4 linked regions of the Homo sapiens genome follow. The protein of the gene in region 3 interacts with the protein of the main gene of each other region in a pairwise test. Each region holds a gene or a part of one and is shown on either strand. Other genes may lie near its edges. The genes, in order: ZBTB24, SLC25A10, KRTAP5-9 and P2RX4.

Region 1 (7,027 bases), on a different chromosome or scaffold from region 3:
AGAATCTTGGCAGCTGGGACAAGGCTTTTTTTTAAAGCTTCCCAGGTGGTAAAAAGCATGCAGCTAAATTGAGAACATCCACCTACACTATGACTTCCTACTCCCAGCTCTCTGGCTGCCTTGATGCTCCTCCCAGCACGTCTCCAGCTTGTCAAAAACATTTATTCCTGCCTGAGGGCCCTGTGCCCAGGGCTCCCCCTGCCTAGAATGCTCTCTCCTGGACATCTTCAATGGCCGGCTGGCTCACTCCCCCACTGCATTCTCATCTCCATCCAAGATGCCACCTCATCTGTGAGACCTTCCCAAACCAGTCCATGCATAAAAGAGCAACTCTCTTTCCGGCATCCCGCCCCCTTACCTTGCATTTTATTCTTCAACGCACTCACAACACCAAATGTGTTATATACTTGTCTGTACTCTGTCTTCCCTATTGAATGTTGGCCCCTTAAGGCAGGGGCCTGTCCATCTCATTCACTGCTGTATCCTCAAAGCCTAAAACAATGTCTGGTTCCCAGTAAGTGCTCAGTACATGTGTTAAAATCCATATCCTATGAGATGTTTACTGAATTTAAGAAGAAAAACTTGTATTTAAAAAACAACATCCAGGCCAGGCACAGTGGCTCACGCCTGTAATCCCAGCGCTTTGGGAGGCTGGGAGGGTGGATCACTTGAGCCAGGAGTTTGAGCGAGACCAGCCTGGCTAACATGCCAAAACCCTGTCTCTACAAAAAAAAAACACAAAAATTAGCCAGGCGTGGTGGTGCGCACCTGTAGTTCCAGCTACTCGGGAGGATGAAGCAGGAGAATTGCTTGAACCCAGCAGGCAGAGGTTACAGTGAGCCAAGATAGCACCACTGCACAACAGCCTGGGCGACAGAGACAGTGACTCCAAAAAAAAAAAAAAAAAAAGTCCAAAGCACCATAAATCAATTTGCTATTTAGATAATTCCAGTAGACAACAGAATTATTAAATAACCTGTAATGGCAAGTTTTTCTTAGAAAACTGAATAGGCTTATTTTTAACATACATTCTTTGACAAAAGGTATAAAAGATCCAATTTTCCGATCTTACATAAAAAAACTGACCTGCCCTAATCAATGCTGCCTCCTCGTCATCTCTGAAACTGATTTTTCTGGAGGTGGTGCTGCTTAAGTTTAAGTGTTGGTTCTAGGGGAGAAAGTGGAAACATTCTCAGTGTCTATGCTACATTTGTGTCTGTTACATTTGGCTGTCTTTTCTAAAAAAATAATCTTGGGCCAGGCACAGTGGCTCACGCCTGTAATCCCAGCACTTTGGGAGGCCAAGGTGGGCAGATCACAAGGTCAAGAGATCGAGACCATCCTGGCCAACATGGTAAAACCCCATCTCTACTAAAAATACAAAAAAAATTAGCTGGGCATGGTAGCGCACACCTATAGTCCCAGCTACTAGGGAGGCTGAGGCAGGAGAATCACTTGAACCCGGGAGGCAGAGGTTGCAGTGAGCCAAGATCGTGCCACTGCACTGCAGCCTGGCAACAGAGCGAGACTCCGTCTCAAAAAAAAAAAAAAAAATTTATCTTGCTGGGTATGGTGGCTCATGCCTGTCATCTCAGCATTTTGGGAGGCTCAGACAGGAAGACTGCTTGAGCCCAGGAGTTCAAGACCAGCCTGGGCAACATAGTGGGACCCATCTCTACAAAAATTAAAAAATAAAAAATTAGGTAGTGTGGTGGTTTGCACCTGTGGTCCCAGCTACCCAGGAGGCTGAGGTGGGACGATCACCTCAGCCCAGGAGGTCAAGGCTGTGGTGAGCTGTGATCGTGCCACTACACTCTAGCCTGGATGACAGCACAAGCCCTTATCTTTAAAAAAAAAAAAAAAAAAAAGTCTTGATATCACCTTCAATGCTGAAGTAAATTAAGAGTGAAACATAGAACCAGACTCAGACTCACTATTCTGTGGTATTAAATGAATTGTGACATACGAATAGTCCTCAGTAAGTGATCTCCATTTTGCTCATCTACAAGAGATGTGATTTCCCCAAAGACAGTGCTGACAACATTCTGCCTTCCAACTTTTAACTTATCTTCTTACACAACTCCCATCCAATTTATAATAAACATTTCCAAACACAGGCTTAGCAGGGCACTCAGAGAACTTCATTCTTCACTCTCCTGAAAACATCCCGTGTACTGGGGGGACAGACGAGATGGAGTTTTACCTGTGTGTGTTCGCAGATGTTTCTTTAGCTGAGACACATCCATGAATTTGCGATGGCAGTCTTTGCATTCCGGTAATGAGTGGCCTTGTCGCAACAATAAAAAAAGTGTCAGTGCATACATGCTCTCCCTGCCTTTTCTTCAGTGATTTGTGTTAAAGCACTTCCCTGAAAAATAATCACTTTAAATATAGTACTTTAACCACAAAAATTTTTTCATTAATTTGGTAACTGTTAATATTTTCCTAAGCACCTCAACTCACTGCCTCCTCCAAGAGAGCTAGGATCCTTCCAATTCTAAATGTAGTCTCTCCTTTTTTCCTCAAAGTATTGGTGTGACTGAGGCCACAAATGACCTCAAATGACACTCGTAACCCACATTCATTTCTTATCAGTTGGCAGGAAAGAAAAAGGACAACAGGTAGAACCAGGGGAGAGAAAGCCTGGGCTGACAGCCATGGGATGATGATGTCTCTGCCCAGGCACCACTAACAACCATTCACTGAAGCTCCCCTGTGCAAGTGGCACTTTTGAAAGATGCCAATTCTGTAGGGTTTCTGTGTGTGGCACCAAAACTGTAGTATACAAATAAAACATAATTCACATGGTGGCGGACAATAACATAAAAACATGTAATTTAGACTCTTAAGGCACTTTTCCCTAAATACCCTATGTGAACGATATGTGCTAAGAGCAGAACAATATAAACCTAATGTTTCAGAAACAATTCTTATTTGCATTTCTTCCCCCCCAATCTAAATGTTCTCACTTTATCGTACCTGTATGAACTCGGTAATGGCTCTTTAGCTGTCTGTTCTGGCTGAAATATTTTCCGCATTGATCACAGGTAAAAGACTTCTGTCCTGCCAAAAAAACCAAAACACTAAAACATGTAAAAAATTATAAAGAACTGGAATGCTCACTAATAAGGTAAATACTACAGTGGGTCCAGGTCCCCATTTTCTACAAATGATACAAGCGACTTGTTTACATACCCAGAAGCCTTCAATCTACCACAGAAACATAAATGTGCAAAGGTATGTAAGGCAATCGGGAGTACTGGAGACTGGGGTAGAACTGGAGAATTTAAGTTTCCCCGAAAGGCGTTCAAAGTAAAACAATTCTAAACTTTGGTGGTTTAATAAAACATGCTTGCACACTAAACTCCCAGCAGCCAGTTTATAAGCTCTAGTTTAATGATCCGTGCAGAACTCTAAACTGCACTCAGACAGATGCAAAATCCTGTCTTTCAATGACACCACGTTGGAAATGATACTAGGCTGAGAAAACACCATTTAGGTGTTGGTAATGCCCACCCTGGGGAATGGGAATCTGGTGAAGCTGGCCCTCTGGGCAAGCCCCACTACCTGAGTGCAGGCTCATGTGCTCCAGCAGTGAGTGCTTGGTGGTCAGAGCCTTGCTGCACACGGTGCAGGTGTACGGCCGCTCGCCTGTGTGCATCCTGGTGTGGACCTGTAGCGAGTGCTTCTGGGCAAAGCCTTTTCCACACTCATTACATTTGAAAGGTCGCTCCCCTGGAAGAAGAGCCCCAGAAGCATGGTATAAGTAAGAATCCACACATTTTTCTGTCTCTCCCAAATTAAAAAAACAATAAAGGATTTTTCTTAAAAGGCACACATCCAAAAGGCCAACAATGAACACAAGAGACATCAGCAATAAAATTTTGGAAGCTGAACAGATGAATCTGAAGCCAGCAGTGAGTAGCACTAACATAACCTAATTTTTTGTTTTTCCTTTGTAACAGGGTCTCACTCTATCACCCAGGCTGGAGTGCAGTGGCGCTACCATAGCTGACTATAGCCTCAACCTCCTGGGAACAAATGATCTTCCCACTTCAGCCTCCTGAGTAGCTGGGATCACAGGCATGTGCCACCACTACACCCAGCTAATTTTTTAATTGTAATTTTAATTTTTTTTAGAGATGGGATCTCACTATGTTGCCCAGGCAGGTCTCCAACTCCTGGGCTCAAGCAATCTTCCTGCCTCGGCCTCCCAAATTGCTGGGAGTACAGGCATGAGCCACCACACCCAGCCCAATACAACCTAATTTTTAAGACACAATCTCCTAAGGCTCAGGAATTGGTGGCACCTGCTATCTCTGGAAACAGGGGTGAGGGAGGGTAAATGAAAGTCTGTTTCAAAGGTGCTTAGACCCCTGATCAAATCTTCCACTCTACACAGCCAGGAGACTGTCCCTCCCCCAAAAGAGAATGGAGAGTGTTCACTGAGGAGGGTTAAGAAAAAGGGGTCTTTGGATTAGGAGTTTCTAGGCACAGTTGAGTTGGGATCACCACAGGGAGAGTAAGTCAACATTTCCATCTGGGATGATGAGACTCCCCCACTCCTTCTTCCCCATCCTGTCCTAGACACAGGCCAGCAGCCAGGCCTAGTGCCTCCAAGTGGGAGAGCAGAAGCGTCTTCCAGTGGAACATGAGAGGTCCAAGGTGAGAGAGCAAAGATGTGGAAGCCAGGCACCAGTAAGGACATGGGGCACAGCCACACCACCTCCAGTGAGGTTATGACAGGCCTCCATACAACTGTTTCAGTACTGACTGAGTGGTTAAGTTAAACATTAAAAGCCAGTGCCCTTAAACAAAGGCTGGAATGTAACAAAAGCCCACCAAGAGTTTCCCCTAGGCTTCTCCTGGGCCTTAAAGCATGACAAAATAACGAAGGAATTCTTAACAGGGCCCACTTAGGATTAAACAAGTTTTACTGGGGATCTGAAGGAACTCCCCAAATCTCCGTGATTTAGCAGAAGATAAGGGTAATCACCCCAGCACCTAGACCCATTTAGATTAAGTAAACTTACTGAGGCTCCAGAAGAAGGTCTTTGGGACGCAGACCTTGGATATAGATTAAAAGAAGTTAATCACCTACGTCTTTAGAGGAATGCACACTTACAGACAGACATACAGCTTAGGCGGTATATAAGCTCTGAAAAATTCTGTAATTTTGAGTTGGTCTGGCGATAATTTCCAGGCCTTCTCCCTATAACTGGTTACAGAAATAAAAACTCTCTTCCTCTCCAATTCATCTGCATCTCATTATTGGGCCACGAGAAATAGCAGCCTGACTCTCAGTGTGATCTGGGAACAAGGTCACAGTTTTACAGACTCTCTCATACAAAAAAAATTAGCCAGGCATGGTGGTGCGTGCCTGTAATCCCAGCTACTTGGGTGGCTGAGGCAGGAGAATCACTTGAATCCAGGAGGCGGAGGTTGTGGTGATCGGAGATCACGCCATTGCACTCCAGCCTGGGCAACAGCCTAAGAAATAAATAAAATACAGGCTCTCTCCACACATGCAGCATTGCCAGTAGCTTTTAGCAACCCACCCTTACATATGATTTAAAAAAAAAACACCAGGCACTCAAGGAGAGCCTTTTGTAATAGTGACAGACAAACAAGCAAGAAGAAAAAAAAAAGCAACTTGCCTCCAGTGAGGAAAATGTTGTTATCATTAACATGCTCATAGAGGTAAGATAATACATTGTGAAATAAAAAGATCATTCAAATTAAAACATTTAGAAAAAAAAGAGCTCCTAAAGGGGGAAAAAAATAAGAGTTGAAACAGAAAACCTCAAAGGGCTGAAAAACAAAGTGGAAATCCCCCAGAGGGTGGGGCCAAAAATGATGGAAAATATAAGAGAAAATAAAGTTAGAGAGAACAGAGAAAACAGAGAGGAGAAATCATCTATGAAATAACTCAAGATTTTCCAGAACTGAAAGACAGTTTCCAAACCTTATGAATCTACCTGTTATCTACCCAGATGGAAGAAAACAGACCCATACTAAAGTGATGGGCTGCAAAATTCAGAATACAGATGCTTCCTGACTTATGATGGGACTACATCTAACAAACCCATCATACTGAAAATATCATAAGGAAAAATGCACTTATACAGAGTACTGTATGAATGCACCAAATGCAGAGTACTGGTCATTTACCCACGTGACTGTGTGGCCCGGCATGGCATGAGAGGATCATACTGAATATTACTAGACCGGGAAAAGATCAAAACTCAGAATTCAAAGTACAGTTTCTGTTGAACATGTACTGCTTTCACACTATTGTAAAGATGAATTGAACCATTGTGAGTCGGGGACTGTCTGTACTGAGGACATAAGGGAAGAACGATCCTACATGCTTTTTCTTAAGTCTTGTATAATGATTTAACTCTAAACTATGCACATAAAATTTTTGATAAAAATAGCCAGCTGGGCGCAGTGGCGCACGCCTGTAATCCCAGCACTTTGGGAGGCTGAGGCAGGCAGATCACGAGGTCAGGAGTTTGAGACCAGCCTGACCAACATGGTGAAACCCCGTCTCTACTAAAAATACAAAAAATTAGCTGGGCGTGGTGGCGTGTGCCTGTAATCCCAGCTACTCAGGAGGCTGAGGCAGGAGAATCACTTGAACTCGGGAGGCGGAGGTTGCGGTGAGCCGAGATCGCGCCACTGCACTCTAGCCTGGGTGACAGAGCGAGAATCCATCTCAAAAAAAAAAAAAAAAAAAAAAAAAAAGCTAAAATATAACCTATTACAGTTCAACAAATATTTCTCAAGTATCCACTTTGTTCGAAGTACCTGAATTCAAGCTCTTCAACCTATCTGTAGCTAAAGTCTTTAGGGAGCTTTTAAAAGCACCAAGGCTCCAGACAACTAAATCAGAAGCTCTGGGGTGGAGGTCTAGGCACTGGTAGTTTTAGAAGCTCCCTAAGTGATTCCAATTTGCAGGCTGAGAACCACAGCACCAGATACTGCTGGATCACAGGAGAAGACTTAAGCCCCAGTCCCTATACTT
Region 2 (6,256 bases), on a different chromosome or scaffold from region 3:
CTGAGTGACACAGTAAGACCCTGTCTTAAAAAAAAAAAAAAGGGCATCTTTGGGAGGCCAAAATGGGCAGATCCCCTGAGCTCAGAAGTTTGGGACCAGCCTGGGTAACATTGTGAGACCCCAACTCTACAAAAACATACAAAAATTAGCCAGGTATGATGGTGCACGCCCATAGCACCAGCTACTTGGAAGGCTGAGGTAGAAGACTGGTTTGAGCCCAGGAGGCCCAGGTTAGTAAGCCAAGATCGTGCCACTGCACTCCAGTCTGAATGACAGAGCCAGATCCTGTGTCTGAGACCCTCAACCCCAGCCTCACCGTCTTGTTCCCTTCCCCCCACACCGGTTTTGGTTCCTCCTACTTCCCCAATTCCTTCATCCAAATGCACAGCGAGGACCCTGGCTCCTCCCCAAAAGGCCTTGGCCCGGTCCTCCTTAGGGGGTGCAGGGGGTCCTGCTGGTCTGGACAGCAAGGCAGCCAGCGGGCAGGCAGCGCAGGCAGGAACAGATGTGGCAGCTCCCGGCATTTATTGATTGCAGCCCCCACAGAGCACACTGCCCTTCCCAGGTGGGGTGAAGCCCAGCGACCAGGGAGGCAGAGGATGCAGCATCCGCCCCGTCGGACTCCTTGTCGGGGAGAAGGCCCTAAGGAGGAACCGCGGCCCGCCTGGGCCATTCCCCCAGGGAGCCAAGCGGGGGGGCCCAGGTGCCCGAGGGACGCAGGCACAATCCCTGAAGACAGAGACCGCCTGCTGGTGAGTGGAGAGGCTTTGGCAAAACTAACTGTTAAAGCCACTGCAGGGCAGGCAGCGGTGCGCGGGACCTCGGTGGCCCTCGACCCTCACCCACAATGGCTCCAGAACCACCCTGGGCCACTCCCTCCCAGGCACTCGCTTGTGGTCTGCGTTGCTTGTTCATCCCACCCAGCTGCGGGGTCTCGCGGGGAGTTGCAGCTGCCCGAGGACATGGAAGGTCTGGTTGCTCTCAGCAGACACGAAGTGCAGAGCTAGCACTTGGGTGAGCAACAGCCAGGCTGCACCCACACTCTGCCACCCAAGTCCTCGATGGAAAGTGCTGGAAGATGCTGCTTTGGGCATCGGGGGCAGGAGGCAGGGATAATACCCCTCCCCTGGCCCAGGAGAGGGGAGAAATCAGCCTCTGGTAGCCCCTGTTCCCCTGAGGAGCTGCCAGCGGGAGAGGGGCAAGGCCACGCAGTGCCCAGCCGGGAGAGCCTGGTAGCCAGAGCGGGGGTGGTGCAGCTACAGCTGAGAGGGGACGAGGCCAGGAGGAGCTCAGCCAGCAGGTGGGGGGACAGCAGGGGCCTGCTGCGGAGGACGGGTGGCCACGGCCAGGGAGGTCGTGGCCCCAGGAGCAGGTGCTGGGCTTGGGACTCTTTGGAAGAACCTAGCGTGTCTGGCCTGGCAGCCCAGCCATTCCCACGGCTGGTCAGGATGGCACTTTGATGCCAAAGTTTTTGCGTAGCTGTTCCAGAAACACAAAAGTGAGCACGGTGTGGGGGATGAGGCGGATGCCAGCTGGGACGAGGCCCTGGAGGGAGACAGGGAAAATGAGAGACACAGAGCCCGAAGGGGCCCGCTCCCCATTGCCCAAGCCGCCACTGCCGCCACCACTGCACCTTGTAAAAGGCCAGAGGCCCGAGCTTCGCTGTCTCCACGGCGCAGTGGAAAACGCCCTGCAGAAAACGCAGTGAAACAATCAAAAAGGCTGCTTCTCACCCAAAAGGCAACGAAAATCCCCTCCCAGGCACCAGCCAGGCACGGTGGCCTGGGCATTCTCAATGTGGGGTGTGGGTGTGGGTGTGGGTGTGAGCGGCGGCTGCTGGCTGGTAACAGGTGACCACAGGTCTGCAGGCACCAGCCAGGTCAACGGCCACCCTGCCTGCTCATGCGGTACAACCAGGGCCCGAGGGTGCAGCCCGGGGTCCAGTGGGCAGAGGGGGCTGTGAACAGAACCATGAGAATCAGGGATGCAGCACGGCAGCGTCAGGGAGAAGAAAAGGGACAGAGCTATGGGCTCTGCAAACGTGGAAGCCCCATGGAGTTGGCGGGGGCCCAAGACAGGAGACCCAGAGCACCTATGAGGCACAGACTGCCATGAACGGCACCACCTCTGTTAATCTGTGAAAGAAATGTTTTTGGCCGGGCACAGTGACTCACACCTGTAATCCCAGCACTTTGGGAGGCTGAGGCGGCAGATCACTTCAGGCCAGGAGTTCAAGACCAGCCTGGCGAACATGGCGAAACCTTGTCTCTACTAAAAATACAAAAATTAGCCAGGAGTGGTGGCACGTGCCTGTAATCCCAGCACTTTGGGAGGCCGAGGCAAGCGGATCACCTGAGGTCAGGAGTTCAAGACCAGCCTGGCCGACATGGTGAAACCCTGTCTCTACTAAAAATATGAAAAATTAGCCGGGCATGGTGGCGGGCGCCTGTAATCCCAGCTACTTGGGAGGCTGAGGCAGGAGAATCGCTTGATCCCAGGAGGTGGAGGTTGCAATGAGGGGAAAAAAAAAAGAAAGAAAAGAAATGTGTTTTTTTTTGTTTTTTGTTTTTTTAAGACAGAGTCTCGCTCTGTCATCCAGGCTGGAGTGCAGTGGTGCAATCTCGGCTCACTGCAACCTCCGCCTCCTGAATTCAAGCAATTCTCCTGCCTCAGCCTCCTGAGTAGCTGGGATTACAGGCGTGCGCCACCAGGCCCAGCTAATTTTTTTGCATTTTTAGTAGAGACGGGGTTTCACCATGTTGGTCAGGCTGGTCTCCAACTCCTGACTTGTGATCTGCCCGCCTTGGCCTCCCAAAGTGTTGGGATTACAGGCGTGAGCCACCGTGCCTGGCCGAAAAGAAATGTTTTAAGACAGTCTCACTCTGTCACCCAGGCTGGAATGCAGTGGTGCAATCTCGGCTCACTGTGGCCTGGACATCCTGGGCTCAAGGGATTATCCCACCTCAGCCTCCTGTGTAGCTGGAACTACAGGCATGCACCACCAAGCCTGACCAATTTTGTTTTGTTTTGTTTTTTTGAGACAGTTTCACTCTTGTGGCCCAGGCTGGGGTGCAATGGTGTGATCTCGGCTCACTGCAACCTCCGCCTCCCAGGTTCAAGCGATTCTCCTGCCTCAGCCTCCCGAGTAGCTGGGATTACAGGCGCACGCCACCACACCCAGCCAATTTTTTGTATTTTTAGTAGAGAGGGGGTTTCACCATGTTGGCCAGGCTGGTCTTGAACTCCTGACCTCAGGTGATCTGCTTGCCTCGACCTCCCAAAGTGCTGGGATGATAGGCATGAGCCACCGCACCTGGCCCCTAATTTTTGTAATTTTGGTAGAGACAGGGTTTCAGTATGTTGCCCAGGCTGGTCTTGAACTCCTAGACTCAAGCAGTCTGCCTGCCTCAGGCTCCCAAAGTGCTGGGGTTACAGGCATGAGCCACTGCGCCGGGCCAAGAAGTCTTCTCTAAAAACAAAAACAAGGCAAAGGCATTCAAAGGCACAACCCTCTCCCAAGGCAAGTGCTGTGCAGAGACAGGCAACTAGAAGGGAGGGACACCCTTCCCCGGGTCCCCAGTGCGAGTGTCCACCCCCCGGAGAGGTGAGGGGACTCGCTGGGCTGTGCAGCCCAACTGCACAGGCAGGGCCCCACTCACCTGATACTCCCCCTTGGAGTTCATCAGGCGAGTCTTCAGCACATCCAGGGGCTGGCACAGGAACGTGGCACATCCACCCTGAGGAGGGGGCTCGTCACCAGCGGCCTGTCAGGTACGCCAGGCACCATCGCCGAATCCCACCCACGTGCCAGAACCTCCACCTGACTCCTAGGGCGGGCCAGGAACATGCTGGCGGGGGCACCAGGCTGACCCATGAGCTCCCAAAGCCCTGGCACCCCACTTATGAGCCCCAGGGGGCACTGCCAGATGCCCAAGGCCCCCGCCTCCCCCAGCCCTCGCCCCATCCTGGGTGCCCTCAGCGCCCAAGGCCGGCCCAGGGACGCCCACCCTAGCCATGCCGGCCACTTACTGCAATAAAGCTGGCGACAAAGTGAGTGAAGATGTTGTCAGAGAGGTACCCGGTGCTAAGGACCAGCTGCTTGGCCTGGTCGTAGCAGGACAGCTGCAGGGGCACAAGGGCGGTCAGGGCTGTAGGGGGGACCCCAGCTTGGGGAAAGCACACAGGGCCCCAGGCGACACCACCTGGCAATGGCCAAGCACCTGCTCCGTCTGTCCGTCCGTGAGGCCCAGACAGGGGAGGCACCTGCCCGAGGTCCTTCACAGGCTGCAGCCCTGACCCACCCGTGCCCCCCACCCTGCCCCACAAGGTCACAGCTGGTGGCTCCCCAGGAGGGTTTTGGCGCCCAGTGCCTTGTTCTATGGCCCCTCTGAAGATGGAGGTCAGTGGTCACAGGCACTGCCCACACCCACCCCACGCAGGAGGCCTACCTGGCCCACAGTGACTAAGGCCCCTCGGCTGGATGCCATGGTTGCACCCGAGAACAGTCTCCTGAGACCCTCTGCACAAGGAAGGGGTGAGGCAAGGGGTGAGGCAAGGGGTGAGGCCAGGCACCTGGCCCAAATCCCTCAGCGCCCAGTCTTCTACAGCGCTGCCCACCCTGCCTGCCCCCCAGAACCCTGCCTGTGCACAGCACCTGCCCCTCACCTTCACGAGCTACGCGGTACAGGCCATCCAGCGCATGGGCGTAGCTGCCGGGGACACAGAATGACCACATGAGACTCCCCCTGACCACCGGCTCCCACAGAGGGTCCTCCCAGGCCCCGAGGCAGGCCGGGGGTTCTCGAGGAAGCAGAGGCCTCATGGGCCTGAAGATCTCTCCCTGGGAACATGAAGCTGGTCCTGACGTCCCACAGCCACCTCGCCCGCCCCGCCCGGCCCTCAGGGAGGAGGTTCCATCGTTTCCAACAGAGTCCCTGGCTGGGCACCGCTCCTAGCATGCAGGCCTCCTGCCCGCCAGCCCCCGGGGTCCTGGGGGAACACAGTCTGTGTGCACAGCTAGAAGCCAGAACTCCCCAGGGGTCCTTGGAAGGGGCGGGGGAAGTGGCTCACACTGCAGTTGGAGCGGACCCCGGGCCCTGGAAAGACCCCAGGCCGTGGCAGGAGGGCACAGCTGCCCTGAGCTGGGCAGGGAGGCAGCGCCTCCTTCGGGCGTTTCTGTTGCATGCGCTCTCTCCATGCCTGGGGCGTTCGCCTCCGCACTCACCACCCTGGGGTGCAAACAGGCCCAGCCCCCAATCCAACAAGGCTCTCCCCACAGGAAGAACCCAAAGGTCCTGGGGGCGCAGAGTGACACCCCCGAGTCCAGAACAGCCGTCAGGACCCTCCATGGACCGTGCAGGCACCTCGGCCTGCTGGAGCCTCAGCTGGGTCACGGCAGAGCAGCCAGGGGTCCGCTCCCGCCCGAGCCTCCTGCACCTCAACCACCCCGAGAAGGCCGCCCATGACTCACTTGCGCCGCTGACCCTGGGGCAGCTTCACGTCGTTCTGCATCCTGAAACAGAAGCAGGTGGCGGGAGGGGCGGGCGGGCCGAGGGGCATGGGCAGCCCTGGCAGCACAGGGGAGCTCACGCTGGTCAGCGGGGCCCACAGGACAGGGCACGCCGGGGCTCAGGGACACCCACCCTCCTATGCCCAGGACACCAGGGTCTCAGTGGCTTATTCCAGGCTGACCCCACCCTGCAAGCAGCCCTGGCAGGCCCTGGCATGTCTGGGGACAAGAAAGCCCCTGGCCTTGCAGGTGGGGTGGGGGAACACCAACCTGACGTTGACCAAGTCTGCGGGCGTCCCCACGAAGCCTCCAGCTAAACCTGCGGTGACACAAACCCCAGAGATGAGCCGTGCTGACACACGGCGTCCTCGGCCGACCTGACCACCCCGCGCCCCTCCCCCTCCCGCCCGGCAGCTCACCGCTGACGGAGCCCAGCAACACCTTCTCGTGGAAGGGGAGAGGCCCCTGGCTGCCCTTGGCCACACGGTCCCGCACAGTCTCGTAGATGGCGAACCGAGTCAGGGAGTAGGTCATCTGGGGGAGAAGGGCCTGGCTTGGAGGGACGGGCACGCCCCACACCCCTCAGCCTCGCCACCCGGCCCAGCCAGGGATCCCCCTCAGCCCGAGGGGCCACAGGGACCCTGAGGGGCCTTCCCAAGGCCACTGTGCCAGCATGCGGCTGAGCCAGTTCACAAATCTAGAGCTGCACCCTGCTTTCTCACTCCCTGGGCCTCAGCTTCCCCACCA
Region 3 (5,925 bases):
CGAACATGACTGACAAATGGCCCGTGACACAGCCCTCAGGAGGTCCTGAGAGCAGGTGCCCAAGAGGTTTGGGGTGCAGCTTGGTTTTATATATTTTAGGGAGACATGAGACTTTAATCAAATACATTTAAGAAATACTAAGGCCTAAACTCTGTTGTTGTTTTTTTTAATCTTGCTCAAATTCCTATCTAAGGGGTCTGCGCATGCCCTACAAATCATAAACTCTCAACAGACAGGTTTTGTTTAGCCCTAAATATTGTGACTTACTTTCCAACCCGACTCTGGCATAACATTATGAGACAAGGAAGAAAATCAAAATACTTTACCCCAAAACATGTTTCTTTGCTGTATTTTGAAATGGCCCTGCAGAGCGTCCTTTGTGGGGGAAAATTTGGATCTGCAAAGAATCTCTATTAACATAGCTAGATCTTTTTCTTCCAGACCCTCCCAGTCCTAAAGAGATTAACTAAGGTCTGAATAGGAAACATTTGTCATCTATTGTCTCTAAGGGCAGCCACTATCAGACTTCAAAAGAACTTTGGTCTCCACAATCTTTATCTTAACTTGAACTTTCCCTTCCTATCCATCCCAGGTCTTTAGACAAACTCAACCAACCGTGAACCAGAAAATGTTTAAATTTACCTATAGCCTGGAACCCCCTCACCCCCCATCCCCCACCACCCGCTTTGAGTTGTCCCGCCTTTCTGGACCAAACCAATGTAATTTTGAAATGTATTTGATTGATGTCTCCTGCCTCCCTAAAATGTGTAAAACCAAGCTGTACCATGACCACCTTGGGCCCATGTTCTCAGGACCTCCTGAGGGTTGTGTCTCAGGCCATGGTCACTCATATTGGGCCCAGAATAAATCTCTCTTCAAATATTTTACAGAGTTTGACTCTTTTTGTCGACATTACATTGGTTTGGTCCAGAAAAGTGGGACAACTTGAAGGGTGGGGAGTGCTTCCAGGCTATAGGTAGATGTAAAAATTTTCCGGTTGACAGTTGGTTGAGCTTGTCTAAAGACCTGGGATCAACAGAAAGGAATGTCTGGGTTAGGATAAAGGATCATGGAGACCCAGGTTGTTATTTGCAGAGGAAGCCTTTAGGTAGCAGGCTTCAGAGAGAAGAGGTTGTGAGACGTTTGTTATCGGACTTAAAGTCTGTGTGGATGTTAATGCCAGAGAGGTAGAATGAGGCATGTCTGACCCCCACTGCCCATCATAGTGTCTCAGGTTAAATTTTAAAACAGCCCTGGCTGAGGAGGAAGTCCATTCAGATGGTCGGGGAGGAGGTCTTAGAATGTTATGTTTGGTTAACCGGGAAACCTTGGAAGCTGAGTTCCTGGCTACGGGGGGATGGGAAGCTGGACTTGCGCCCTTCTCCTACTCCCTGGCCAGCCATGACCCAGCTCCCTCCCCTCAGGGAAAACAGAAACCAATTCTGTGGAGACTGCACTGAGGAGATCAGTGTACCCCTGACATTGCCCCCTCCTTCTTGATAGGAGATCCACCACGGAGAGGCCCTGGCCATTCTACGGAAGAGGCGCAAGGAAGTCTTCTGAGTCCGCTGCTTCACCTTTTGACATCAGAGGGCCAAAAGCTCCACCCTCAGATCAGGCTAACACCTCTGGTTTTTGCACATAGAGAGGGGGTGAAGCTGGATTGCGCATATGCCTGGTTTTGGGTCTGCAGTTGGTTCCTGCTGGTGGGTTCGTGGTCTCGCTGACTTCAAGAATGCACCCATGGACTTTCACGGACCTTCGCAGTGAGTGTTACAGCTCTTAAAGATGGCACAGACCCAAAGAGTCAGTGGCAGCAAGGTTTATTGTTTATTCGCGAAAGGACAAAGCTTCCACAGCGTGGAAGTAGACCCGAGTGGGTTGCCGCTGCTGGCTGTGTGGCCAGCTTTTATTCCCCTATTGGCCCCGCCCATGTTCCGTTTCTGTCCTATCAGAGTGCCTTTTTTTCAATCCTCCCTGCGATTGGCTACTTTCAGAATCCTGTGCAGATTGGTGTGTTTTACAATCCTCTTGCAAGACAGGAAAGTTCCTGATTGGTGCATTTTACAATCCTCTTGTAAGACAGAAAAGTTCCCCAAGTCCCCACGGGACCCAAGAAGTCCAGCTGGCCTCATGTCTCAGTTTCTCCTCTTATCAATATTCATGTCCCTCCCACAGCTTATTGAATATGCATATTCAGCCACCCCCACTCAGTGTAGATCTCTGCTTTATTCTTCCCTCCCTCCAAGTGTCTGTTTCCAGCTTCCTACCAGAGGCTGCGCCTCCCAACCAGTCAGAACAGCCACACTCAGCCCGCAGCACTTTATGAGAAGTAAAGCGCTCCTTTCCAAATTGACGACCTCGTCCTTCTTCAGTTAACACCTCCCTCTCTCAATGACGATGATGGAGCATGTCCAGGTGTTGGTGACACAGCTACATGGCTGCGTGTGGGATAAAGTCGCTGCCCCTTCAGAACTCACACCCCCCTGGAGTGGGACACACACCTCTAAGAACAAACAAGGATGAGAGCAGAGCCAGCTTGGCATCGTGGGAATCAATAAATGAAACAGAAAGTGCAAGGTGGTGGGGGTAGCTATCTCGGGACGGGGTGTCAGAGGTGGATCTGAGTTGGGCAGACAGGAGGGACGCAGTCCAGGGCGGTCCTGGGTGAGTCTGTTCCATGTAAGGAACTGCCAGCACACAGGTCGTAAGGAGGAGTGCGGTGTGGCCCCGGCACCAATCCAGGGCTGGATGAAGAATGATTGAGGCAGTCTGAAGATGACACCAAGTCATTCTCCTCCCACGGAGAGGTGGACTTTCTCTTCTCTCTGCAATCTGGGCTGGCCTCAGTGACTTGAGGAGGGAGAAATACTCTAGGATTCCTAGGCTGGGTCATAAGGCACCTTCTAGCCTCTGCTCGAGTGACCTCCTAGGAAGTACAGCTGCCCTGAGCCCACCATGCTGTGAGGAAGCCCAAGCCAGCCGTGGGAAGAGGCCGTGAGGTGGGGGAGGGGAGGGAGATCTGTCCGGCCTCACCTGTTGTAGCCATCCCATAGGTGTGTGAACACAGCATCTTGGACAAGCCAGCCCCAGCTGACATAATTTACAGAAAAACCAAGGAACCCTGCAGACAGCCGGAACTGAGGTCCCAAAATACAGCCCAGCCAAGCCATGCTGCCATCGTTAGCCATTGGTACCTTCCCAATTGAGACCCCACAAATCATGCGGCCTGTGCCACCATCCAGTGCCGGATCTGAACTACTGATCCACTGAGCTTTGGGCTGATTGGTTCTGCAACGATGGGTGGCCAAGGCCACGGTCAAATCCAGCTGGAGAGGTGGATGGGGCCAGTGTCAGGGGTTTGGATTTCACCCCAAGTCAGCTGAGGCACACTGGAATGTCGTAAGCCTGCACATCCACTCATCACACATTTTAACCGCATCTGAGTGTGGACCGTACCGATGGGTTCCTGCACCTGCAGCCTCCACACCATTGCTGGTGCCCTGCCTCCTAGCTGGAGTATCCTTCCTGTCTCTTGGCTGCTCTTTGTACCCATCATGGTCCCCCTACCACCCTCCAAGTTCTGCTCCAAGCTTTGTTTTCCTCCAAGAGAAGAACCTGTCCAGACAATAGTTTCAAAGCAGCGGGAAGCTCTGCTCACGTGTCCCCAAGGACCATGCTGTGTGAAATTCCCTTCTGTAATCACAGAGCCCATTGCCCTGGCCTATTCCTGGTCCAGGAATAGGGAGGAGGTAGACAGAGGATGCCTCCTTCCCCACTGCTGAGAACCCTGCCATCCTCAGCCACAGTTGCCACAGAGAAGATACCACATCCCTGGGGGAATCAGCAGGAATCAGGTAGAGAGTGGCACTGCTCTGGGGAGGGAGGGCGTCTCACAGCATCAAACGTCAAAAACCCACAACATTGACCCAGTCCTGCCAAGACGGAACCCTGCATGAGCATGGGGGATGGGGAGTTGGGGTGTTGCAAAAGACGCAATACATGAATGATCTCAGGTAATTCTCAGGCAACCCCCGGAGGCTGGTGTTGCTAGCACCCCTCTGCAGGAGAAGAAGCTGGGGCTCGGGAGCTGACTGGATCTGCTCAAAGGCCCAGGAAGAATAAGAGTTAGGAACTGGGACAGACCTTGAGGAAGCTGCACTTCCTCCTGAGGTGAGCCAGCGTTGGAGCTGTTTTTCCTTTCAGTATGAATTCCACAAGGAAATCATCTCAGGAGGAAGGGCTCATACTTGGATCCAGAAAATATCAACATAGCCAAAGAAAAACAATCAAGACATACCTCCAGGAGCTGTGTAACAGCAACCGGAAAGAGAAACAATGGTGTGTTCCTATGTGGGATATAAAGAGCCGGGGCTCAGGGGGCTCCACACCTGCACCTCCTTCTCACCTGCTCCTCTACCTGCTCCACCCTCAATCCACCAGAACCATGGGCTGCTGTGGCTGCTCCGGAGGCTGTGGCTCCAGCTGTGGAGGCTGTGACTCCAGCTGTGGGAGCTGTGGCTCTGGCTGCAGGGGCTGTGGCCCCAGCTGCTGTGCACCCGTCTACTGCTGCAAGCCCGTGTGCTGCTGTGTTCCAGCCTGTTCCTGCTCTAGCTGTGGCAAGCGGGGCTGTGGCTCCTGTGGGGGCTCCAAGGGAGGCTGTGGTTCTTGTGGCTGCTCCCAGTGCAGTTGCTGCAAGCCCTGCTGTTGCTCTTCAGGCTGTGGGTCATCCTGCTGCCAGTGCAGCTGCTGCAAGCCCTACTGCTCCCAGTGCAGCTGCTGTAAGCCCTGTTGCTCCTCCTCGGGTCGTGGGTCATCCTGCTGCCAATCCAGCTGCTGCAAGCCCTGCTGCTCATCCTCAGGCTGTGGGTCATCCTGCTGCCAGTCCAGCTGCTGCAAGCCCTGCTGCTCCCAGTCCAGATGCTGTGTCCCTGTGTGCTACCAGTGCAAGATCTGAGGCTCTAGTGGGAAACCTCAGGTAGCTCCTGAAGATCTGTGCTTTCCAACAAGTGACTACCCTTGAAGCACATCCCCTTCTGGATCTGAAAAGAGCCCTTGGCTCAGGGCGTCTTTTTCCAGCCCCTGAGGAAATGGAATGAACCACTCCCTGCCCATTCCCTATAAGAATATCCCAAGACCCAGGCAATTTTGCCCCTCTTTCCCACATGCCCCCATATGTCTGAGCCAAACTGCACTGGGGGCTGCCCTCATGCCAAGCAAGAGCCTGGAATTCCCCTTCTTGATAATTCCATGGGAGACAGCAAACCCTTCTTTCCTTTGCCTGCCAGGAGCTTCACGACATTTGCAGATGGATGTCCTGCAACCCAAATGATCACATGTATCTATGGAAATCCAAAATGCATCTGGGTGCAGCACTAAATAAATTCTCCATCCCTCAGCCTTGGTCTCACTGACTCTTTTCTTCCAGCCTCTGTCTCATTGGCAAACTGGCCACATGTCCTTCCCCTCCTCCCTGATAGCTTATTGCTCCCACTGCTGTAACAGTGTGCCAGGCCCAGCTCCCATTCCAGAAACAGTTGTTGAACTGATTAATGAAGGAACCACTAGCAGTATGTATGAATGAATGAAGACGAGGAATGAATGAGTGAATGAGTGAGTATCTCTCATTAGTACACAGGGAGTCCCAGCTGTATCTCAGTGGGATTCAGTCTGTCTTGGTTGGAATTTGGACTCCTACTTCTTCCCCATGGGAGGATATGTTTGGGAGAGAAGGAGAACTTTGCCCTCAGTGCCTAGGAAGGGATGTAATGGGTGCTCTCTGGGTCCAGCCAGTCCCCAGTTTGTGGGTCAAGCCAGGAGATGGGGAAGCGAGACTAGAATGAGCTGTGTCCCTGAGATGCTCTGTAGGACAACACTGGAAACTGTGCTGCTTCAAGGATCCAAGACGGTGTGGCTGAACACAGG
Region 4 (7,957 bases), on a different chromosome or scaffold from region 3:
TGTGCCCAGCCTCTTTTTCTGTACTATGTCTTTGAAATCCAGTGTGTATTTTAAGGTTATAGCACATCTCAGTGTAGAGTAGGAACGGTTAAGTGTTCAACAGGTGCAAGTTACTAGTGGCTACCATACAGTGCAACACCACTATGGATATTTTCCGCAGTTGTAATTTTACAGGTACCCTAAGGTAGATGTGCACTGATCCTCCCACTAGCAGCAAACGCCAAAAGCAAAAAGCTGCAGGGGAGCTCCTGCCCCCAAATGCTTCAGGTCCAACCAGGGATGTGAGTTCAGTTAACTGGCTAGCAGTGAGTCTCCAAAAAAAAAAAAAAAATATATATATATATATATATATATATATATATATTTGAGATGGAGTTTTGCTCTTGTTGCCCAGGCTGGAGTGCAGTGGCGCAATCTGGGCTCACTGCAACCTCCGCCTCCTGGATTCAAACGATTCTCCTGCCTCAGCCTCCCATGTAGCCGGGATTACAGGCATTAGCCACTAGGCCTGGCTAATTTTTTGTACTTTTAGTAGAGACGGGGTTTTACCATGTTGGCCAGGCTGGTCTCGAACTCCTGACCTCAGGTGATCCACCCGCCTCGGCCTCCCAAAGTGCTGAGATTATAGGCATGAGCCACCGTGTTCAGAAAAAAAAAAAAAAAAAATTCTTTTTTTTGCACTGCTCCATCAGTACAATTTACCATTTTAAACTTTATTTTTCTCTTAGAGATGGGGTCTCGCTATGTTGTCCAGGCTGGTCTTGTGTCCAGGCTGGTCTTGAGCTCCTGGCCTCAAGCAATCCTCCCACCTTGGCTTCCCAAAGCACTGGGACTACAGGTGTGAGCCAATGAGTCCAAATCTGGGTGTGGGCCAGGTGGTTCTGATGTTGAGTCTGCACCTGGAAAGCCATCCTCTTGAATACTGTCTGTATCTACTGCTGCTGCTGACAGATATTGGAAGCCAAACCTGCTTGGGCTTCCCTTGGGCAGTGTTAAGATTCCAAACCTCACCCCAAAGACGGGGGGATCTGTTACTTTTAAACAATTCCTCAGATGAGTCTTCCATGATCAGGTAAACTTGGGAAACACAGTTCATTGGTTCCGAAACGTTGCTGAACATGAGAATCACCTGGGCAGCCGATCATACTCTGCAGCAATTAAATCAGAAGGTCTGGGGATGCGTCTGGGCGCGGTGGCTCACGCCTGTAATCCCAGCACTCTGGGAGGCTGCGGCGGGTGGATCACCTGAGGCCAGGAGTTCGAGACCAGCCTGGCCAACATGGCGAAACCCTGTCCCTACTAAAAATACAAAAATTAGCCGGGCATGGTGGTGGGTGCCTGTAATCCCAGCTACTCAGGAGGCTGAGGCAGGAGAATCGCTTGAACCAGGGAGGTGGAGGTTGCAGCGAGCCAAGATTGCACCACTGCACTCCAGCCTGGGCGACAGAGGGAGACTCCATCAAAAAAATAAAAAAGGGTCTGGGGATGGGAGCCAAAGATTTCCAGATGGTTCCAATGTGCAGTTTGGAGACCACTGCACTAGGCAATACGTGTCAGCCCAGCAGCTGTAGACACCAGAACACCCCAGGTAAGCCTTTAAAGTGGCCCCAGGTGGCAAGGTAATTATCATCTTCTCTCTCGCGTTGTATTCAATTGTAACAGGTGCCAGCCCCGCGTGGGGGCTCACGCCTGTAATCCCAGCATTTTGGGAGGCTGAGGTGGGCGGATCACCTGAGGTCAGTTCAGGACCAGCCTGAAACCCCGTCTCTACTAAAAAATACAAAAATTGGCCGGGCGTGGTGGCGGGCACTTGTAATCCCAGCCACTCAGGAGACTGAGACAGGAGAATTGCTTGAACCCGGGAGGCAGAGGTTGCAGTGAGCCGAGATCGTGCCATTGCACTCCAGCCCGGGCGACAAGAGAGAAATTCCGTCTCAAAAAAATAAAAAAATTAAAAAAGTAACAGGTGCCTTCAAGTACAATGGCACATTCAGCGAGGCCTGAGGGCGGTAGGGCATCTCTAGCCTAAGGGGGCAGCATGGGGAATGACTGACTAGGCTAGGGCAGGTACCACAAAAAGCCCCACAAGCCCAGAAAACAAAGGAAGCAAACTTTAAACACTCGCTACAGTCTGACCTCGCTACTACCACATAGTGACACCGCATAGTGATCAAAAGAAATGACCAAAAGCCACCCACCCAGAAGGAACCAAGCGGAAATTCCAAGCTTTGGTTTTGTCAGCAAATCAGCAGGATGGGAAGTGGAGAGCGAAGATTGAGACGTTCAGGGCGAAGCCCCTACAGCCAAGGGGCACTATGGGGGGTCAGGCAGGAGAGGGTAACAGCCTAGCCAGGCTTTGCCTTTATTTATTTTGTAAACAGACGGGTCTCGGACTGTCTCCCAGGCTCGAGTTAAGTGGTGTGATCATAGCTCACTGCAGCCTCAGCCTCTTGGGCTCAAGCGATCCTCCCACCTCAGCCTCCTGAGTAGCTGGGACCCCAGGCGCGCGCCACCAGGCCCGGATGATTTTTAATTTTTTGCAGAGACGGGGTCCCACGATGTTGCCCAAATTGGTTTCGAACTCCTGGGCTCAGGCGATGGTCCCGCCTCGGGCTCCCAAAGTGCTCGGATTACAGGCTTGCGCCACCGCGCCTGGCCCAGGCTGTGGTTTTAAAACAGCAGCAAGCAGCCTCCCGCCCCCGGGGCCCCGGCGCGGCGGCTGGGGCCCAGGGAAGGTGTCACCGCCTCGGCTCGCCGCTCCCGGACTCGCCCAGGTGACCGAGGCCAGGATGAGCCGCCGCACGGCGCGGACGCGAGGGCAGCACCCGCCGCGCCCCCCGCGCGGCCCCACGCTCACCCGATGACGTAGGCCAGGATGAGCAGTTGCACGGCGCGGTTCATGAGCCCCACTTTGCGGCTGCGGATGAGCACGATGCGCGGCGTGTCGTACTCGAACAGGAAGGCCGCCAGCGCGGCGCAGCAGCCCGCCATGGCCGCGCCGCCCGCTCCCAGTCCCCTAGTCGGTCTGGGTCCCAGTCCCCGCTCGGAGCCCCGCCCAGTCCGCCTGGCCTGCTGGCGGCGCCGTCATCGCGGAGGAGGGCCCGGAAGGAGGCAGCACGGGCGGTCGGGGCCCGGGGCCCGGGGGAGGGCGCCACCTCCCCGTCGGGAACGATGACCCTCTAGGGGGCATGGAACTCGCGGGGGGGGAGTGGCCTCGCCCTTGAGGACGAAAGGCTCCTTCAAAAGGCGGGCGAGGGGCCGGGGGCGGTGGCTCACACCTGTCATCCCAGCACTTGCGGAGGCCGAGGTGAGAGGAATCTTGAGTTAGAGACCAGCCTGGACAACATAGCGAGACCTCGTCTCTATCAAAAATACAAAAAAAAAAAAAAAAAAAAAAAAAAAGCGGGCGTAGTGGCGCTCGCCTGTAGTCCCAGGGAGGCTGAGGTGAGAGGATCGCTTGAGCCCAGGAGGTAGAGGCTGCCGTGTGAGCTGTGATCGCGCCACTGCACTCCAGTCTGGGAGATGAAGCGAGACCCTGCCTCAATAAACCAGAAACCAAAAAACAACAAAAAAGGCGAGTTGGGGAGTAATGACCTTCTCAGGAGGGCCAGAGAGAACAAGAGACCCTTTCGGGGAAGATGGGGTCCGCGAAGAGAGAGTGACCTCCCATTTGGGACAGAGTTCAAGTGAGGGGTAACGAGCGACCTCCCTTAGGGGTACTGATAGGTGCCAGGGATTTCCGTAGAGGACCCCGGGGCTGTGCGGAGTAGCCATCGCTCACGAGTGCGGGCTCCTAAACTTGGGCAGCTGTGGTTGGGGGAGCTGGGGCCGCGCTGTCCTTAGCCTCTTGGGGAACAGCCTAAATATCAGGTGTCCTGTGAGCCCTGGGTGAGAGCCACACGCCCTGTAAAATACCCCTCCTGGATTTGAAGCCTGGTCGCATTCTCACTCCAAATACTTCCTTAGTTGCAGCCCAGGGGAGATAATTCTGTGGTCATCCTTTCCACTGAGAAAATGCTATCACAACTTTAGGAGAGAAAATAGTGAAAGGGGGGGAAACAGCCACCGTTCTACCCCATGAATACAATTTTCCGCATGTGTATTTGTTCATTCCCTTCAGATACGTTTTTTCTTTTTCTTTTTCTTTTTTTTTTTGAGACGGAGTTTCACTCTTGTCCAGTCTGGAGTGCAGTGGCGCGATCTCGGCTCACTGTAACCTCCGCCTCCCAGGTTCAAGCAATTCTCCTGCCTCAGCCTCTTGAGTAGCTGGGATTACAAGTGCCCGCCACCACGCCCAGCTAATTTTTGTATTTTTATTAGAGACAGGTTTTCACCATGTTGGCCAGGCTGATCTCCAGCTCCTGACCTCCCATGATCCACCCGCCTCGGGCTCCCAAAGTGTTGGGATTACAGGCGTGAGCCACTGCGCCTGGCCCAGATGTGTTTTCACAGGTGAATGTTATATTTAGTTTCCCAGAAAATATTCATAAGCACATCCTTTATGCCAAGTACTGTCCAGTGAACAGGACAAGCAAAATATCCTGCCTTCATGCAGCATAAATTCCAACAGGTAATTGGTATAAAGTTTTGGTTTGTAATCATAGTCAATGGCTGTGCTTTTCATTTTCTGATTCGCACTACGTGGTTTCTGTGTTACTGCAGACTCATCATAATGACAATTTTTAATCCATGGACCATTTCTTCCGGAAAATATACCACGATGTCTCTAACCGCTCTCATCTGCTTGCTTCTTAGTTTGTGGATCCTATGCATAATCTTTGATACAACATTTTTAGCTCATTTCCTGGATATGAGATTCCTAAGTAAGCCACACCAACTTGTTTTTCCAAATATAGAAAGGTGAATAATAAAATTTGCAGAAAACAGGCAGCATCTGCCTCTAAGAGATGGAATTCTTAAGTTAGAGGGAGGAACAGAGATGCCCATGCCAGCCTTGGTCCAAAATGGTCTCAGGAAAAGGTGGTGGTATTTTATTCATTCATTTGACAGAAATTTACTGAGTGCCTGTTGTGTGCTTGGCACTTTTCTTGATGCTAGGGCTATGGAGTGGACAGGTGAGGTATCTGCCCAAATGGAGTTTGGTGCAATTGGGAAGCCTCAAATTATCTGTAGAAGAAGAAAACTCCATTGCTAAATCCTCATTGGAAGGGGACTTAAAAATCATTTCCTTAAGAATCAAAACATGGCTGGGCACGGTGGCTCACACCTATAACTGCAGCACTTTGGGAGGCCGAGGCAGGCGGATGATCATGTGAGGTCAGGAGCTGGAGACCAGCCTGGCCAACATGGTGAAACCTCATCTCTACTGAAAATATAAAAAACTTAGCTGGGCCTTATGGCAGGTGCCTGTAATCCCAGCTACTCGGGAGGCTGAGGCAGGAAGAATTGCTTGAACCTGGGAGGCGGAGGTTGCAGTGAGCTGAAATTGTGCCACTGCACTCCAGCCTGGGTGACAGACTCCATCTCAAAACAAACAAACAAACCCCAAAAAACACCAGGCACGTGGCTTACACCTTTAATCCCAGCACTTTGGCAGGCCAAGGTGGGTGGATCACCTGACATTGGGAGTTCGAGACCAGCCTGACCAACAATGGAGAAACCCCGTCTCTACTAAAAATACAAAAATTAGCTGGGCGTGGTGGCGCATGCCTGTAATCTCAGCTACTCAGGAGGCTGAGGCAGGAGAATTGCTTGAACCGGGGAGGTGGAGGTTGCCATGAGCTGATCACGCCATTGCACTCCAGCCTGGGCGACAAGAGTGAAACTCCATCTCAGAAAAAATAAAAATAAAAAATAATGGCAGCAATCAAAACACATTTCCAGCCTTCATTCATACTTACCCTATAGTAATGAGTTAGTCCCAACCTCACAAATCTTGAATTTAGATGGTTTGCTTGTGTTTTGGAATGGGGTCAGTTAAGAAAAATGTAGAAATGCAAGTTTTTATAAATTACTAGTTGGTAACATCATTAGGCCTGACCAAAGAAGCTGATCCTAAAAAATGATTTGGAAAAGTTATTTTGTTTACACTGTTGCTCTTGGATTATCTCTTTTTAAAAAATAACTTTATTGACCAGACATGGTGGCCCATTCCTGTAATCCCAGCACTTTGAGAGACTAAGTTGGGAGGATTGCTAGAGCCCAGGAGTTTGAGACCAGCCTGGACAACATAGGGAGACCCCCATCTCTATAAATACTTTAAAAATTAGCCAGCCATGCTGGTGCATGCCTGTGGTCCCAGCTACTTGGGAGGCTGAGGCAGGAGGATCACTTGAGTTTAGGAGGTCAAGGTTGTAGTGAGCTGCAATTGTGCCACTGCACTCCAGCCTGGGTGACAGAGTGAGACCCTGTCTCAAAAATAAATAAGAAGGCGGGATGCGGTGGCTCACACCTGTAATCCCAGCACTTTGGGGGGCCGAGGTGGGTGGCTCACTTGAGCTCAGGAGTTCCAGACCAGCCTGGGCAACATGGTGAAACCCCATCTCTACAAAAAGTACAAAAATTAGCTGGGCATGGTAGCACGCACCTGTAGTTGTAGTCCCAGCTACATAAAATTTTTAAAAAAATAAATTGGCCAGGTGTGGCTCACACCTGTAATCCCAGCACTTTGAGAGGTTGAGGTAGGTGGATCACTTGAGGTCGGGAGTTTGAGACCAGCCTGACCAACATGGTGAAGCCCCATCTCTACTAAAAATACAAAAGTTAGCCGGGTGTGGTAGTGCATGCCTGTAATCCCAGCTACTTGGGAGGTTGAGGTAGGAGAATTGCTTGAGCCCAGCAGGCGGAGGCTGCAGTGAGCTGATATTGTGCCACTGCCCTCCAGCCTGGGTGACACAGTGAGACTCTGTCTTAAAAAAAATAATATAATAAAAATAATAAGGAAAGAGAGAAAATTAAAAATGGATCAAAGACATACATATAAGAGCTAAAATTATAAATCTCTCTGATGAAAACATAGGGGCAAATCTTTGTGACCTCGGATTAGACAGTGGTTTTTTAGATTTAGATTTTGTTGCCTAAAGCAAGGCAACAAAAGAAAAAAATAGATAAATTGGACTACTTTGTCAAAACTGAAAAGTTCGTGCTTCAAAGTTACCATCAAGAAAGGGAAAAACCCACAGAATGATAAAATATTCACATATCCTATATCTGTTAAGGATCTAGTATTTCAGATATCGTAAGAACTCTTAAAACTCACCAATAACATGACAACCCTATTTAAAAATGGGCAAACATATCTGAATAGACATTTCTCCAAAGAAGATATACACATGAGATCAATAAACACAAGAAGATGCTCGATATCATTATCGTTAGGGAAATACAAATCAAAGCCACAGTGAGATACCATTTCCTCCCCACTAGCATGGTTATAATTAAAAAGATGGACAATCAAAAAGCTGGCAAGGATGTGGAGAAACTGGAACCCTCACACATTACTCATGGGAATGTAAAATGGTCCAGCTGCTTTTTACTCGTGGGAATGTAAAATGGGCCAGCTGCTTTGGAAAACAGCAGTTCCTCAAAATGTTAAACATAGAAATTACCGTAGGACCAAGATATTCCTTTTCTAGGATTTCCCCAGAGAATTAAAAAGATATGTTCTGGGCGGGGCTCCGTGGTTCACGCCTGTCATCCCAGCACTTTGGGAGGCCGAGGCAGGTGGATCACTTGAGGCCAGGAGTTCGAAACCAGGCTGGGCAACATGGAGAAACCCCATCTCTACTCAAAATACAAAAATTAGCCAGGCATGGTGGTGCATGCCTGTAATCCCTGTAATCAGCTACTCAGGAGGCTGAGGCAAGAGAATCACTTGAACCTGGGAGGTTGCAGTGAGCCGAGATCGCACCATTGCACTCCAGCCTGGGTGACAGAGCGAGACTCCGTATCAAGAAAAAAAAAAAAGAAAAGAAAAGCTATGTTTGGCATCTGACCT

Evidence for each region.
Region 1: the proteins of KRTAP5-9 (region 3) and ZBTB24 interact in binary tests that used the Homo sapiens proteins (3 or more experiments, as listed by UniProt).
Region 2: the proteins of KRTAP5-9 (region 3) and SLC25A10 interact in binary tests that used the Homo sapiens proteins (3 or more experiments, as listed by UniProt).
Region 4: the proteins of KRTAP5-9 (region 3) and P2RX4 interact in binary tests that used the Homo sapiens proteins (3 or more experiments, as listed by UniProt).

The regions. Positions count from the first base shown.
Region 1 is NC_000006.12:109,473,196-109,480,222, forward strand, and holds part of ZBTB24 (zinc finger and BTB domain-containing protein 24), read right to left. Parts: intron 3,736-7,027; coding exon 3,568-3,735; intron 3,064-3,567; coding exon 2,980-3,063; intron 2,288-2,979; coding exon 2,204-2,287; intron 1-2,203. UniProt on the Homo sapiens protein: May be involved in BMP2-induced transcription.
Region 2 is NC_000017.11:81,715,265-81,721,520, reverse strand, and holds the end of SLC25A10 (mitochondrial dicarboxylate carrier), read right to left. Parts: intron 6,044-6,256; coding exon 5,929-6,043; intron 5,829-5,928; coding exon 5,780-5,828; intron 5,513-5,779; coding exon 5,471-5,512; intron 4,710-5,470; coding exon 4,666-4,709; intron 4,520-4,665; coding exon 4,449-4,519; intron 4,123-4,448; coding exon 4,030-4,122; intron 3,765-4,029; coding exon of another isoform or gene 3,738-3,764; coding exon 3,660-3,737; intron 3,470-3,659; coding exon of another isoform or gene 3,353-3,469; exon of another isoform or gene 3,177-3,352; intron 1,691-3,176; coding exon 1,634-1,690; intron 1,546-1,633; coding exon 1,444-1,545; coding exon of another isoform or gene 1,004-1,443; 3' UTR 509-1,003; downstream 1-508. UniProt on the Homo sapiens protein: Catalyzes the electroneutral exchange or flux of physiologically important metabolites such as dicarboxylates (malonate, malate, succinate), inorganic sulfur-containing anions, and phosphate, across mitochondrial inner membrane.
Region 3 is NC_000011.10:71,544,211-71,550,135, forward strand, and holds KRTAP5-9 (keratin-associated protein 5-9), read left to right. Parts: upstream 1-4,209; 5' UTR 4,210-4,447; coding exon 4,448-4,957; 3' UTR 4,958-5,398; downstream 5,399-5,925.
Region 4 is NC_000012.12:121,205,199-121,213,155, reverse strand, and holds the start of P2RX4 (P2X purinoceptor 4), read right to left. Parts: upstream 3,028-7,957; 5' UTR 2,992-3,027; coding exon 2,858-2,991; intron 1-2,857. UniProt on the Homo sapiens protein: ATP-gated nonselective transmembrane cation channel permeable to potassium, sodium and calcium. CTP, but not GTP or UTP, functions as a weak affinity agonist for P2RX4.